2 separate regions of the Homo sapiens genome follow, and region 1 is linked to region 2. Evidence: fine-mapped expression QTL. A gene starts in region 2. The other region holds a variant in brackets. All regions are shown on one strand. Distances are between the middles of the regions. Region 1 holds the start of SEPSECS (Sep (O-phosphoserine) tRNA:Sec (selenocysteine) tRNA synthase). Region 2 holds the start of PI4K2B (phosphatidylinositol 4-kinase type 2 beta).

Evidence for each region.
Region 1: its variant is fine-mapped to the expression of PI4K2B in whole blood (INTERVAL, PIP above 0.99).

Annotation. Positions count from the first base shown.
Region 1 is chr4:25,156,955-25,165,263 of GRCh38, forward strand. SEPSECS (Sep (O-phosphoserine) tRNA:Sec (selenocysteine) tRNA synthase) reads right to left here and starts at 3,495. Exons shown (of 11, transcript NM_016955.4): 1 at 3,302-3,495; 2 at 1,999-2,153; 3 at 1-20. The coding sequence starts at 3,415. It overlaps SEPSECS-DT (SEPSECS divergent transcript), which reads left to right and starts at 3,718. Exons shown (of 2, transcript NR_037934.1): 1 at 3,718-3,799. RefSeq lists a silencer at 3,179-3,348 and an enhancer at 3,459-3,758. The variant T/TAC (reference allele first, on the strand shown) is at 4,050.
Region 2 is chr4:25,230,363-25,238,696 of GRCh38, forward strand. PI4K2B (phosphatidylinositol 4-kinase type 2 beta) reads left to right here and starts at 3,671. Exons shown (of 10, transcript NM_018323.4): 1 at 3,671-4,069. The coding sequence starts at 3,802. It overlaps LOC105374535 (a long non-coding RNA gene), which reads right to left and starts at 3,503. Exons shown (of 4, transcript XR_925490.3): 1 at 3,427-3,503. RefSeq lists silencers at 3,461-3,770, 3,871-4,110, 4,151-4,210 and enhancers at 3,497-3,998, 3,999-4,498, 4,431-4,560.

The DNA of each region.
Region 1 (8,309 bases), 73 kb before region 2:
GTCCAATGCCATGAATGAACCTAAGCAAAAAATGGGCCAAAAACTGGACAAATACATTCAGCATTCCGAGTAATACAATGTACAAATATGCAAATGTAATAACCAAAAAAACACCAGGAGCAATATTTGGCTGTTACAGATATATGTCACAAACTATTAATGATGTGGAACTCTCCTACTTAAATTGAAATAATTTCATCAATTATGCTGTGATAGCTAGTTTCCAAAGACGGCCACCATCAATTCTTTTTCTCCCTATGCCCACATGCTACTCCCACACCAAGAGATGGAGTCTACTTCCTCTCCACTTGAATCTGGGCTGAATTTAGTAACTTGCTTGGCCAGGAAGAATCTAGCAGAAGTAACTGTGTGAAATTTTCATGCTAGGCAAACCTTCAGATGACTAAACTCTCAGCCAGTATCTGACTGCAACTACATGACAGACCCAAAGCAATACTCACCCTGCTGAGCCCAGTTAATCCAAAAAGCTATGAGAGGTAACAATAAATGTTTTAAGCCACTTAATTTTAGGGTGGTTTGTTCTGTAGCAATAGAAAACTAGAATACATGAAATATTAAATTATCTTTTTTTTTTTTTTTTTCGTTTTGAGACGGAGTCTCGCTCTGTCGCCCAGGCTGGAGTGCAGTGGCGCGATCTCGGCTCATTGCAAGCTCCACCTCCCAGGTTCCCGCCATTCTCCTGCCTCAGCCTCCCGTGTAGCTGGGACTACAGGCGCCCGCCACCACGCCCGGCTAATTTTTTTGTATTTTTAGTAGAGACGGGGTTTCACCATGTTAGCCAGGATGGTGTGGATCTCCTGACCTCGTGATCCGCCCGCCTTGGCCTCCCAAAGTGCTGAGATTACCGGCGTGAGCCACCGTGCCCGGCCAAATTATCTTTTTTCTTTACTTTTCCCCTAATTCCACACTGGGCTAAGTTCCAATGATGGTTCAAATATTGCCTTAATTTTAAAAGAACTATATGCTCCTAGAAAATCAGTGTGCAAATCTCATTTTAAATTAGACAATATTATACATTGTTTAAAGATACCTCTCAATACTCTTTAAAATAAAAAACCCTTTCGTAATTTGAGTAATTTCTAATTGACAGTCAAATATATCAGAAATTCGGTATAGGAGGATTATCGAAGAATACTAGTGCTGTACTTCCTCACCACTGAAATCTCATGTACAAAACATTTCTTACATATATTATCAACCATGTTATCAGCAAACTGTTAACTGAAATTTTCATCCAAGTTAGGCATTATCATCAGTTTTGACTGCAGTGGTTTTTACTGAAATACAAATTCTACGATGCCCAGGAAATTTTCATTATAATGTAAAAGCATGGAAGACAGGAGTTTCATTTAAAAGAGTTTACACTTCACAGAAAGGTTAGTGGACAGAGCAATGAGTGATCATATTAACTACCAATTAACTACCAATTAAATCGTTATCAGAATTGATGAAAAGCTTTCTGCAATAATGCAAAAGAAAAAGGTCACTTAATAATCTAATACACCTTTCCCTGTATCTATTGCAACAGAGGTATTTATAAAATGAGATTCAGTTTAAACACAGTTTAAAACAAAATTTAAAGTTGATAACTATAAATCATTCAAAAAAAAAAAACACTACAAATGTTAGAAAAGAAATATGGAAAGCTATAAACAACCTTAATGGATTTTGAACTCTTACAACCAGATATGTTTATTAGGGTAACCGTTCCTAAGAAAACGTATAGCCTGTGTTAGTCACCCAGAACCTGACAGGGTAACCCCCACTTAGTTTTTACTCTATTGTCTTTGAAAAGCACCTGCTGAGATAAAATTGTTTCCATCTCCCTGTTGCATTTGGCTTACATATCCATTAGAGCAGGGAAGAAGTGGTTTACAAACTGACATTTGATAATCTAATAAGATAAATACTGCTGCCATTATTTTGAACCAAAAATAAATAAACGATGTATCTCCTGTACTACTTAAAAAAAGATACCTGTAATGACGACGAGCAACCAGTGCGGATGCCACTCTCCCTTCCCTTTCTCCCACACCACAATTGCCTAAGAAATTGTTGCTGTCCATGATTGCAAGTTCATGTAAAAAGAGTTCAAGTGTACTTTCATCCCAGCCATTCTCTGGACACTTGCCCTTAAAAAAAAAAAAAAACTTATGATTATATTTAATAAAACTACCGTTCTCTAGAATACTACAGGAATACAGTTTTTCTTTTTAACGTGTATTTTGCCACGCTGCTTGTTTTCTAAAATTCAAGCATAAATTCACCACTGTATAGAGACCGCAAAGAGGCAAAACGTTTGTACATTTGATTACAATTATTTACAGATTTCGAGAAGTGATGATAAATGCATACAATGAGGTTTACTGAGATATTTAAATTTCCGTAAGTGAAACTAACTGAAAACCAATACAACACATCCCCAGTGAAGATGCTTCAAACCAGGGCGTTACGACTGGGGCGGTGGGACGTGGAGAAGGGCGGTAGTTGTCAAACTTCAGTGAAATTTTGGCCACGCGCTGTAGCTCACTCACGCCTGTAATCCGAGCACTTTGGAAGGCCAAGAATGGCCGATCACTTGAAGTCAGGAGTTTGAGATCAGCCTGGCCAACATGGTGAAACCCCATCTCTACTAAAAATACAAACATTAACCGGGTGTGGTGGCGGGCGCCTGTAGTCCCAGCTACTCGGGAGGCTGAGGCAGGCGAATGGCGTGAACCCGGGAGGCGGAGGCTGCAGTGAGCCGAGATCGTCACACTGCATTCCAGCCTGGGCGAAAGAGCGAGACTCTGTTTCAAAAAAACAAAACACAACAAAACTTTTAATGAAATTAAAATACATGAACGCTGGCAGGAGGGAGACCTGTGAAGTTCCGCGGAAAGCTCGTGGTTCGAGTTAGCATACAGTCTACAAACACCATTATGTGTTCTGAGTCGTTGAGGGTTGGTGAAAGATGGAGGTGCGAACTTTGCCCTTTCCGCGAATAAAAAAGTACACTGGGACTTTCCCTCACTTCCGCATCCCGAAGTTAGAAACAGCGGGACTCAAAACCCCGACCCCAACACCCCCTCCTAACAACACCATTTGGCTTTCACTGGCTTTGGCAAGGCTGAGAAGGCACAGACCGCAGTCGGTCAGCTAGGGCAAGCCAAGCTGAGACAGACTTGGGACTAGTCTCAAGCAGCGAAGAGCTGCCGGTGAGGCAGCACCAGCGGGGACGCCCGGCGGAGCCAGAGCCCCGGGGTCGCGGCGGCTGGGGAGGGGACCGACAGCTCGGTACCTTCTCCAGAAGCAGCCGTATGAGGTGCTCATGCGAGCGGCGGGCCTCACAGCCCTGCCGCACGTAAGCCGGCGACACCAGCCGCTCTCCCGCCGCGAAGCTCTCGCGGTTCATGACAGCGGTGGCGACAGTGGCGAATAAGCGGGAGCACTAGCTCCACACGCCAGACACACGACGGAACCAGAATGCAACTCGCCGCCTGGACGGTACGGCAGCGCCTTGGGACAAAAAACAAAACAAAACAAAACAAAACAAAAAAAACACTTCTCGTTCGTGCACATGCGCAGACCTTCTCAGATGGCGCTCCAGGAGGAAGTTGGCGTATTTGAGCATGCGCGAGGGAGTCCGCGCTTTTCGCTGACTTTTGGCAAAGGAAGGACTGAAATTAGCCCCGCCCCGCTGCGGCTGATTCGTCTAGTTAAACCCTGGTGTTCCTGACACAAACTTCAGGAAAGGATTTTGCACTTGTGCAGACCGGGCGAGCAGAGTAAGAAGCAGGTACGTGGGTTTTTCCAAGTTCTGTGTTTCAGTCCTGTTGGATGGTTGAGATCTGTGCAGGGTCTGTGCTTCCGCCTTATTCAAACTGTCAGATGCCAGAACCTTCGATCTTTACTTTGATACATTTCCACACTTATTACTGCCTCACAACCCCATAGGAAATAGCAGTGCCCCACTCATTTTCCCCTTGACACTACTGTTTAGCCATAGCACTTACTACTCACCACGTGACATGCCAGACGTTTGTTTA[T/TAC]ACACACACACACACACACCCATACCCATGAATGTAAACTCTCTAACCTAACGGCAGGACCTCGGTTTTTGCTGCGGTGCCCCCTTCCCCCGGGCACCTAAAACAGTGCCCAGAATAAAGTAGGGCCTAAAAAAAAAGTTGATATTGAATTAATGAATTAGTTTGACCATTCTGAAACTATCCCCAAGAACATTTTGTAAAATTGATTAAGGAGGGGAAAAAAATCCAACTAGGCTTACAGCTGCTGTTATTAAGCCAGCTTGCAGTGTGGCCGACTTTCTTGTAGCTGGTTGCTACTTACTACCCCAGGAGAATGTGGCCCTTGTCACAAGACTCTTCATTCTTTTTCTGCTCTGAAGATAAAATCTAAGACATTATGAGAAGATAAGCTTTCTGTTTGCATTGCTTCTTTAGGTCCCGCATACCAACAAAACTAAGGACGCCAACTTGTCTGGAAGGCCCAATAAAAAGCTGATTCATGGAGGAATGCAATTGTCACATCCTAATGATTTCATCTCCCTTACCCCAACGAATCGATAACCCCAAATTTTCCAGCCCCTCACCCTCCACAAATCCCCTTAAAAAACTTTGCCTAGAACCCCTTGATGAAATGGATTGAAGCTTGAGAACTCTTCCTGTTTCCTGGCTTGTAACTTGTGATTATTAAAACTTTCTCTGCTGCAAGCCTGCTGTCGGAATACTGGTCTGTTTCTGCACAGCCGGCATAGGAACCTGGCAGTGCTGTAACAGTTCAACAACTTAGAGGTTCACTGCTGGAGATCCCTGCCTCCAGTTTCCTTACAATCTTCATCTTATGTGAGCCTACAGTAATTCCTGACATTGCTTTCACCTGGTGGTTTGTCCATTTGCACTGAGTCACACCCACTTGCAAGAGCTGATTGTTAAATGTTCAGTAATTTTGTGAGCTAGTTTTCAAATACAGCCACTCAAAAATTATATTACAAGCAAAAGTAAAAATACTCAAAATTTGTCACTTCCTAATTATTTTACATTTTACTATTATCTATGCTCTTCAGGTTATTTACATGCATTTTATCTATATGGTGGAAATTCAATGTAATGTTATACTACTGCACATCTTCCAACTCCTCTTTTGATGATGTCACGTTGGCCATGGTGGGAGCATTTACACCATGGAAATCAGTAAACACCGCTAATCAGGCCCTTACACTCCAACCCACTCCCCTAGAAGTCAGTTGTTCAACATGTACCAGCTCATCACTGTTTCTACTGCATGTTCCCATGGCATCCAGCTATTAATATAAATCAGTCTATTTATGGTATTTGTTGAATTGCATTTCAATTGTTAATTTTCTGTCTCAACTAGACTGTGAACTCCTGGTTCACAAGGGCTATACCAATATCTGTGTTCAAAGCACAGCACTAAATACATAATAGCTGTTTGATAAATATTTGTTGAATGACATAGAGCATTTAACTACTTTAAACAGAAAGGTAAACCACAAAACAACAAGAATTTAGCATACTTTCTAAAATGAGTATTTTTCAAACTTTTGGAAAGTTGTGTTCCTATTCTCAAAATGCAACTATTTTTGCAACTTCTTCTTTGGAAAAGCCTTCAAAGCTGCTTTGTCAATCACATGCAAAATGTGCAAAAATCCCAAAATTAATGTCATTACTGAATGGACACGCCAGGTTTTTGAGCCAGCTTCTTCTCTTACCTTATTCACCACCTTACTTCAGAAAAATGTTTGTCTGTTTCCAAAAAGTTAGTCATTGTCAAGATATGCATTCATTAAAGGTATTCAAAAGATACCAGCTTTGGAAGCAATTTCAAGAGAAGTATTCTAAAATTACTTTCATCCATTCACTCACCCAACAAGTATTTATCCATATGCCCATTTTACAGATCAGGAAAGCAAAGCTCAAGAAGTTTGAGTAATGTATTTAAGGTTATACAATGAGTGACACTAGCAGAATTTAAACCTGTGTGTTCTGGACCTATTTTAAATGATGCTATCTATTAAAAATAGTATGTAATTATTATTTTAAAATAGTAGTTTGTAACTACTATTTTAAAATAGTATGTAATTACTATTTTTAATAATAGTATGTAATTACTATTTTTAATAGGGCAACATCAGAATAACCTCATGGTCTTTACAAGATGAAGCATCATTTAAAATAGGTCCAGAACACACAGGTTTAAATTCTGCTAGGGTCACTAGTTGTATAACCTTAAATACATTACTCAAACTTCCTGAGCTTTGCTTTATCTGTAAAATGGGGATATGGAAGAGGCAGTTATGATGATTAAATGAGAGGTAATTGCTCAATGACATCTTCCCCTAGATAGACTGACTATACAAATGGACAATGGCCAGATCATATGTGATAACAGAACTCTCACCCACAACCTCTCTAGCAACTAGACTTCCAAACCACCACCTCTGCAGCAATCAGCCAAGAATGGTTAAGACTTGGGCAATGACTGCCAGCTTCCCTCTTTTATTACTCGCTTCTAACTTAAGACCAACCAGAGAAAGCTAAATATCCTCCTTAAATTACATAAGATGCCCTGTTTCTAGTTAGCCAACCTCTAGCTTCTCCTTGCCAACACCTCCAATCGGCACACCTGAATTCTTCCCTGTACCTGAATCTTTCACTATAAAGCTTTCCCACTCCCCTGCCTGCCTTTGAGACTCTTGACAAATGTAAATGATGGTGACTGACTCCCTTCTCTAGCACGCTCTGAATTTCCAGTTTTCCTGGAGACTTCACTGAGACATGGTCTGTGCTGTCCATGGCGGTGGACCTCAGCCTTTGGCCAGTTGTGGTGCCCACAGGGGCTCCTCGTGCCTTGTTGCTTATGGCTTGTCAAGTCCATGCCAACATGGTAAGTCAGTGCTGGCTTGGAACTCCTCCCTGTTTGCCTTGAGTTCCTAAGCTATTCATTTGAAGTTTGGTACTCAGATTTTGTTACTGGTTCCTATTTGCATCCTTAGTGGAATCAGGCAATTCCTTTTCATCCTTTGTGCTGTCCTTTGTACTTCTGTTTTGTATTGTGCTATCTAAAAGTGTTATTTTCCATAAGAAGGAGAATCATAGGGTAGAACATGGCCATGGGCCCTACAACCCTGTTGTTTAAGCCAGTTTCACAGACCGATGAGTTTGCAGTTCTCACCAGACTACATCCGTTTGGACAAATTTTGTTGTGGGTCACCAATAAAACTGGATGAAGTTCTCCCTTCATCTTGATTTTTTGTTCTGAGGGCTTGCTTTTGATCCAAAGAAAGAGGTCATTCTGATATTCTGCCTGCCAGGGGGCACAGATTGTTCGGTCTGTGTTCAAAAGGGGCAAAAATCAGGCTGGGGACTGAGACAGGATAAGCACGAGCATAACTTTCAACACCGTAGCCAGCTCTAAGTCTAAATCCTCTCCACCAGGAAAAACTTCTGCTTCTTATACATACTCTCATTACAATCCTAATGCTTGTGCCTATCTCTCTAAGTGGCATAACTTCAGCAATGAGGAGTTGGGCCTTCAGTGGCCACTCTGGGAAACACTTGACTTGACAAAATTTTTTATTTGATGGGCAAGAAAAGAAAGGGAATTAAGATTTCTTAGGTTTGATGGGCAACAGTTTTTTAGTGGTACACAGAGGCCTCCAAAGGAAATTCTGATTCAAGAATTATTCCACTAAAAGATGCTTTGGCTAAAGCTAACAAGCAATTTGACATCTTAAGCAACAACAAACTAGACTCATTTCCTAGTAAATCTTCCCCTTTGCGTTGGCTCCCTATATCCAGATGTCCCTCTTATCCCTTAGCCTTCTGATAGCTCTCTTTCTTCCCTTCCATCAACTCCCCCCTTCTCTTCCTCTTGTCCAGGACTCCTGCATTTTCCCAACAACTCTCCTAAAACTCTAAAATGTCAATTGCTTCTAAAGATCCCTCTCCCCTCAAAAGCCAGGTATGCAGGCAACTGCAGAATTTAAACTTTGCACCCAAGATGAATTAAGAGCAATAATCAAGAATTTCTCTACTTCCAAACAAGACCAGCAACTATTTATAGAAGAATTTAGGATTCATTTGAATGCATATGATTCAGGGTTACCTAACCTAAATATATCAATGTATACATATATTGGCCAGATCCTCAGGTGTTAAATCTTGGATTTAAAGAAAAGCTGATTGGACTGACATGAGAAGGGATCTACAAGGATCGCTTTTTCCCCAATAAACTTAAGCGTCTGAAAAAAAAAAAGCCCTGAAAAG
Region 2 (8,334 bases):
ACATTCCTGGTGGGTGGGAGAAGAGCCCTTTCCTGCCCTGCTCATGCTGTCTAATGGCCTGTGACAGCATGACTTTAGTAGGCTTTGGGAAATCAAGAGTTTTGAAGATTATTGGTAAAATAAAGACATTTGGTTGAAATTAGGTCAGACATTAGGTTTGCTAAATGCTTTAAGGTAATAAACTGCTTCTAAAAAAAAAAAGAATGACATTTCTCCAAATTTTGTGGAAAACATAAATCTACAGATTCAAGAAGTAAAGCAAAACCTAAGCAAGATATTTGTAAAGAAAATCATACCAAAAACATCATGGTCAAACTATTGAAAATCAAAGAACCAAAGAACCAGAGAAAATCTTAAAGGCAGCTAGAGAAAATGACATAGCACAAGTCGGGTGTGTAAGTGAAGGGTTATGATTCAAAAACAATGAAGGCAAGAGGACAATAGAATGACATATTTACAGTTGAACTTAGATGGGTAAGGATAGCAATATCAACCCAGAAGTCTGTATCCAGAGGACATAGCATTTGAAAATGATGGTAAAATAAAGACAATTTCTAATAAATTAAAACTTAAATTTATCACCAGTGTATTAGTCTGTTTTCATGCTGCAGATGAGGACATACCTGAGACTGGGCAATTTACAAAAGAAAGAGGTTTACTGGACTTACAATTTCACATGGCTGGGGAGGCCTTGCAATTATGGGGGAAGGCAAAGAGGAGAAAGTCACATCTAACGTGGATGGGAGCGGGCAAGGAGAGCTTGGGCAGGGAAACTCCTGTTTTTCAAACCATCAGATCTCATGAGACTCACTTACCATCATGAAAACAGTATTGGAAAGATCTGCCCCCATGACTCAATCACCTCCCACCTCCCACCTCCCACAACACGTGGGAATTGAAGATGAGATTTGGTGGAGACACAGCCAAGCCATATTAATCAGCAAATCTGCATTATAAAATTTGTTTTTAATTCTTCAGAGGAAAGGGAAATGATACTAGATAGAAACTCTGATCTACAAAAAGGAAGGAAGAACACCGGAAGTTGTAACTATGTGGGTAATTTCTCTAAAAAAGCAATTAAGGCAAAAATTATTCACTGTATTTAAATATTTAGGTCTAGTATACATGACAGCAATAACATAAACGATGGGGCATAAATGGAATGACACTAAGTTCTTACCTCTTATGTCAAATAGTACAATATTGGCTCTTAGTACACTGAGATAATTTAAGGATGAGTATTGAAAACCCTAGTGTAAGCACTAAAAATTAATGTAAAGAAGTATAACAGAGGCCAGGCGTGGTGGCTCATGCCTGTAATCCTAGCACTTTGGGAGGCTCAGGTGGGTGGATCACAAGGTCAGGAGATCAAGAACATCTTGGCCAACATGGTGAAACCTCGTCTCTACTAAAAATACAAAAATTAGCTGGGCATGGTGGCATGTGCCTGTAGTCCCAGTTACTCAGAAGGCTGAGGCAGGAGAATAGCTTGAACCCAGGAGACAGAGGTTGCAGTGAGCCAAGATTGCACCACTGCACTCCTACCTGGGCAGCAAGAGTGAAACTCCATCTCAAAAAAAGAAAAAAAATAAGTATAACAGAAAGTCAATGGTGGAATGAAAATGAAATAATCAGAATTATTGAATTAATCCAAACGAAGGCAGGAAAGGAGGAACAGAGGAACCGAAAAGGTTAAAGCAAATAAAACCCAAATTGCAAAATAATAGATCTAAATCCAACCACATCATTATTACATTAAATGTAAATGGACCCCAAACTCCAATTAAAAGGCATTTACAGGCCAGGTGCAGTACCTCACACCTGTAATCCCAGCACTTTGGGAGGCCGAGGCGGGTGGATCATCTGAGGTCAGGAGTTCGAGACCAGCCTGGCCAATGTGGTGAAACCCTATCTCTACTAAAAAATACAAAAATTAGCCGTGCATGGTGGCAGGCACCTGTAATTACAGCTATTCTTTCTTTAAAGCGGAGAAGGCATCAGGGAAGAGGGTTGTAGGTGGTGAAGCAAATGGTTACATTTTTGCTAGACTTTAGGTAGTGCCCAGTAACTCTATGCTATGCATAAGATAAGGTGAATATTCAAAGAAAATGGAGTAAAGGAAGTTAATTATACAGATATCTCAGGTGAAGGAATGATTGATCTTATCCTTGTTCTGCATCTGGGAAGATAAGCTTGTAACTGAATTTATCCATGTGAAATTTAACAGACTTTAGTTGTACCAGTTTGATTTAGGTTGCAGACTTAAAGTTATACAATTGACACGTCCTTGTTTTATGGAAGGATATACATCTTGAAAGGTTTAAGGGCCAGTAAAGAATTTACTATGATTAATTTGTTGAGGACAGTCATCCTGAGACTGAGATGCATAAGGCTTTTTTTTGCATTTTGAGGAGGGTCTGGCTAACATATAAAGTTTTAATACAACTATGGGAAGTAACAGCTATCCATTTGGGAAAAGCATTGTAGTGTTGAGTGACTTCAGTCTCCAGGCTTAACTCTCCCTTTGACATAACAAGTTGGGGGTGGGGGGTGGTTCTGAGATTTTTATTTTCCTTTACAGGGTCAAAGAGGAAATCATAAAGGAAATTAAAAACTATTTTCAGCTGAAGGAAAACAAAAGCACAGTAGCAGGCCAGGCAAGGTGGCTTATGCTTGTAATCCCAGAATTTTGGGATGCTGAAGCAGGACGACTGCTTGAGACCAGGAGCTCAAGACCAATCTGGGCAACAGTGAGATCCCATCTCTACAAAAAATTTAAATTTAAAAATTAACAGGATGTGGTCGTGCACACCTGCAGTTCCAGCTACTGTGTCTTCTACAGTTTAAAGCTGAGAAGATCCCTTGAGCTTAGGAGGTTGAGACTGCAGTGAGCTATGATTGTGTCACTGCACTCCAGCCTGGATAACAAAGTGAGACCCTGTCTCAAAAATAACAACCACCAAGAAAAAAAAAAAGGAGAATTCAGCTAAAGCAGTGCTTAGAGGGCAATTTATAGCCTTAAAATACTAGCATTGGAAAAGCAGAAAGATCCAGAATCAATCATCTTCTACTCTAAGCAACTAGAAAAAGAAGAGGAAATCAAAACTCAAGTGAGCAATAAAGAGCAAAATAAGGCAATGGACCAGAAAACAGAAAATCAATGGAACCAAAACATGACATTTTGAAAAGATTTAAAAATTGATAAACTTCTAGCTAGATTAGTCAGAAAAAGAAAACATACAAACTGCCACTATCAAGAATATCTGAACAAAGACAAGGTCCCTGCCCTCCTGGACGTCTACTGGAGGAAAGAAATGTCATACAATTAAATCTATAGTTACAGATTATGGTAAACTCTGAGAGAGAATTCTGTCAGGGAGAAGCCGCTTTTGGTTGCAGGAGGGCACCTCTTTGAAAATTACTCACCTTCCCGCCCTCCACTGGGAGTAAAGCGAGCTGTGCCCAGCTTCTCCCCGCGCTCACGGAAGCAGGTGGCGGCCCCACCCCACCTGACCCCTCAAAAGCCCCGCCCCCTGTTCACTCCCACGTGCCCCGCTGCCGCCGCCGCCGCCGCCACGACCCTTCTGCGCAGGCGCGGGGGTGGTGCCTGGCGGAGGCGCGAGGTGGGGCGCGGCCGGCGGCGAGGCGGGACAACCGCTGGGCGGGCGCCAAGCGTGCCCGTGCGCTGGTGAGGTGGCGTCCGTTCTACCCGGTCGCTCCCGTTCCGCGCCATGCAGAGCCCAGTCTCTGGCACCTGGCTGCTCTGATCTGGTCTCAGCGCGGAGGGAGCAGAGGGAGTCCATGGAGGATCCCTCCGAGCCCGACCGGTTGGCGTCCGCGGACGGCGGGAGCCCGGAGGAGGAGGAGGATGGGGAGCGGGAGCCGCTGCTACCGCGGATCGCCTGGGCCCACCCGCGGAGAGGCGCCCCAGGCAGCGCCGTGAGGCTGCTGGACGCTGCCGGGGAGGAGGGCGAGGCCGGCGACGAGGAGCTGCCCCTCCCGCCCGGGGACGTGGGGGTCTCCCGGAGTTCGTCCGCCGAGCTGGACCGGAGCCGCCCCGCGGTTTCAGGTGCGACCCGGCCCTGCCCCACTCCCCGCGCCCCTCCGGGCGGCTGCCCCTGTCGCCCGGCTCGGTCCTGTCTCCCGCGCGCGCTGGCCGAGGTGGACGGGCTTTCCCCGCTCGCTGGGCAGCAGCTCCCGAGCTCGGACCGGCGCCAGCCGCAGCCGCACCGCGGGCACCTAGCTTGCTCGCTCTTTCTCCGGGAGCTCCCTCTCCTAAGGCCAGTGGTTGTCATTAAACCGATTCTTTAGACCTCCCCGCAAAGTGAGTCAAAACTTCTAGAAACCGACACTGGGGAGAGGTTAACGCTGTAAAATGACGTAAGTCCTTGCTCAAGTTTGGACTTGACTTTTGAATTAAGAACCTTGAACTCTCAGGAAAGTTCCCGGAGTGGTGAATTTGCAAAGTGGATGACAGGAGAGAGATGGACAGCCAGAATATCCAGTTGCCACTGGGGCACGTTTCAAAACCTTTTTCTATTAAATGTTGTTATTATGAAGTTAGCCACAGGGGGCAAAAGCAGTTGAAAGTCTGTTCCTGCCCTCTTACAGTTTAGTTTCTCTTTCTTGATTTACTTCTAATACATAAGAAAACCAAAACGAAAAACCTCTTTTCGCTATTAAGCGGACTGATAACCTCAGGCGAAACAGGGCAGTTGAAATGATGTTGAAGGTTAAATTTAGGTATGCTGTGCAGGCCTGGATATTTATTAATAAAGTGAGTTTTTCTGGCGTGTTGAATGGAGTTAGACAAATGTGATGGAAATAGCAAGAGACTTGTAAGACTCTCAGCTAGAGGTGAGACAGACTTGTTTGTAAAAAGGCGATGGTACACCTCCCTGCTGGTTGTGAGGATGGATTAAATGAGATGTTGTGCACCCGGTTGGTTTATCGCTTCACACATGACAACTTAAAAACCACAGAAAATGGAAGTTTCTTTAACACTGCTTAGTTTTTTTTGGAATTGTTAGATTTTAAATGTACTGTTAGTGGTACACTAATGTGTCCTTTACAGTTTAAAGAATTTTGGATAGAATCGGTCACTCAAGTTCTAGCTAGAGGCTACATTCAGGCATATTCTAGAGTAAATAAATCAGAGAATCCCAAGGGGAGCAGTTTGTCTGATTGTTTAAGCTTTAACCAACGTCTGCTCCCGTTATAATGTTACCTGATGGATGCATTGACGTTTAACCAAACAACGTGAAGCTGAAACCAGATCACAAACGGGTCTGCATTTGCCTAGCTACATTGGCAATTTGGGTATATGTTACTTAGAATTTAGTCTGTAAAATAGCTAGCTTGCCTTTTTCTGTCCCTTACCTTGTGTAAGCTACCTTGTGTACCTGGGTTTTTAAAAGAGCCTAAAGCCTTCAAAATGCACTTGTTCTGTGAAAGTGAGGTGTTTTATAAACAAACAGTATTAAGGCTAGAAAAAAATCAAAGCGAGAGGTCAACGAGATGGCAGGCCTGTAATCCCATCCCAGCATTTTGGGAGGTCTAGGCAGGAGAATAGCTTGAGGCTGGAAGTTCGAGACCCACCTGGGCAACATAGCGAGATCCCCATCTCTATAAAAAATAAACAACAACAACAACAAAAATTCAAAGTGAGGATAGAGTATAGTGTTAGAATACAAATGGATTCTTAGAATTCCTACCTTTTTTAAAGGTAATATCTTACCTGTATCACAGTTTACAATTTGCTAAGATCTTTTTTAAAAAAATATTTTATTCTCCACTGCACTCCAGCCTGGTTCTGTCTTGAGACAGAGCAAGACTCTGTCTCAAAAATAAATAAATAAATAAATAAATAAATAAATAAATAAATAAATAAATAAATTTTATTCTCTGTTGGGTGCCATGGCTCATGCCTGTAATCCCAGCATTTTGGAAGGCCTAGGTGGGTGGATCATTTGAGGTCAGGAGTTTTCAGACCAGCCTGGCCAACATGGTGAAACCCTGCCTCTACTAAAAATAGAAAAATTAGCCAGGCATGGTGGCGGGCGCCTGCAATTCCAGCTACTTGGGAGGCTGAGGCAGGAGAATCGCTTCTGAACCCGAGAGGTGTAGGTTGCAGTGAGCAGAGATGGCTCCACTGCACTCCAGCCTGGGTGACAGAGTGAGACTTTGTCTCAAAAAAAAAATTAATTATTTTCACAACAGCACAGCAAGTTAGTTGTTATTCGCCATTATTCTCATTATGAGGATTCAGAATTAATAAACTGGTAATGACTGGTAGCTCAGGTCTTCAGAGGTAAATGGTTTGCCCGAAGTCAAATATCCAGGAAGTAATAAATCAGGAGGAAGCCTGGTTCTTTCTTCATCTTCTGCCCCTTTTCCGTTTTGCCATGGGTCCACAAGTGTTATAAAATAATTGTGTCTGTGGTTATTTTGGAGGTTTTTACCTTTAATAGGACTTTAAAATAGTTTCTGTGAAAACTGTTTAAAAAATTTTTAAAGACTAAAATGTTCATGATTGAGTAATTTAATACTTTTTAAGTTTAGTTATTTTTTAAATGACTCCATTAACTTCATTTGTCCTTTACCATCCGATTTCCATGAAACTACCTCACTAGTTCCAAGAAATTCTTGCCTTTAGATTAATATGAACATCATTTATGATGCTTAACTCTTACTTATATAAGCAAGAGGTTTATGTACTTTAGCCAGTGGAAGAATGTCATATGTCTGTTATCTTCAACAAGGCATTTAACAAAGCCTACAAACAGCATAAACCATAGTGTTGTTGGATCAGTGTCAAAGTGGAAGGATTAGTGCATTCCTTGTTCTAGTTATTTTAATCAGTGAATTCGGTAGTAATGACAGCTAATGCCTACATAGCAGTTAATATGCGCTAGGCATAGTTCTGTATGCTTCATATATATTAATTCATAACCAACCCTGTGATGTGAGTACTATTTTTGTTTTTTTTTTTTGTTTTTGGCAGTGGGTGGCTGTAGGGGTGGCAGTGGGGGAACAGAGTTTCATTCCTGTCACCCAGGCTGGATTGTAATGGCGTAATCTCGGCTAACTGCAACCTCCACTCCCCAGGTTCAAGCGATTCTCCTGCCTCACCCTCCCAAGTAGCTGGGATTACAGGCACATGCCTGGCTAATTTTGTATTTTTAGTAGAAACGGGGTTTCACCATGTTGGTCAGGCTGGTCTCGAACTCCTGACCTCAGATGATCCTCCCGCCTCGGCTTCCCAGAGCACTGAGATTACAAGGCCACCATGCCTGGCCTTGTTCTCATTTTAAGAAAGTATAGGGAGAGGCTGGGCATGGTGGCTTACGCCTGTAATCCTAACACTTTGGGAGGCCTCTTTGGTGCACACCTGTAGTCCAAGCTACTCAGGAGACCGAGGCAGGAGGATTGCTTGAGTCCATGAGTTTCAGGTTACACTGAGTCCAGTGAGCTATAATTGCACCACTATACTCCAGCCTGGGTTACAGAAAAAGACCCTGTCTCAAAAGAAAAAAAGAAAAAGCACAAAGAAGTGAAGTGACTTCTCCAAGGTCCCAGTTAATACAAATCAGGAGCGCTTAGCTCCTGTTAGAGAGCCTAACAGTTAGAAAACAGTGTTAGAATTCACAAAGAGCTGCCAAAGTAAAAGAAAATGTGAATTTGTAAGTCATTTAATGATTCATGGTGGTTTATAAATATGTGAACAGAATAAGAAAATCATTTAAAAGGAAGAAAGATGAGAAGATGGAGCCTGGAGTAAGATTACACAAGATGTACCTCAGATGCTTGATGCAGGCAACCCACAGATTTGATTTTTGAAATTACTGAGCAGCTAACTTGAGAGAAACACAATCATGTGGTCTATACAGTTAAAATAAACTGGTTATTTGAACCAAAACAGAACAGACAAAGGGTAGCCTGTCACAGTCTCTTGGTGAATGCTGTATGCTGAACAATATCTGTGATTAAAGTGATTAATTTCATAAAGGTAGTTCTTATAACTTCCCTAAAGTCCATTTCAGCAGAAATGGTTTTAACTACTGGTGCTATTGTGTCCGGAATTGGTGGGTTCTTGGTCTCACTGACTTCAAGAATGAAGCCATGGACCCTCGCGGTTAGTGTTACAGTTCTTAAAGGCGGTGTGTTCGGAGTTTGTTCCTTCTGATGTTCGGATGTGTTCGGAGTTTCTTCCTTCTGGTGGGTTCGTGGTCTCGCTGGCTCAGGAGTGAAGCTGCGACCTTCACGGTGAGAGTTATGGCTCTTAAGCTGGCGCGTCTGGAGTTGTTCATTCCTCCTGGTGGGTTCCTGGTCTCG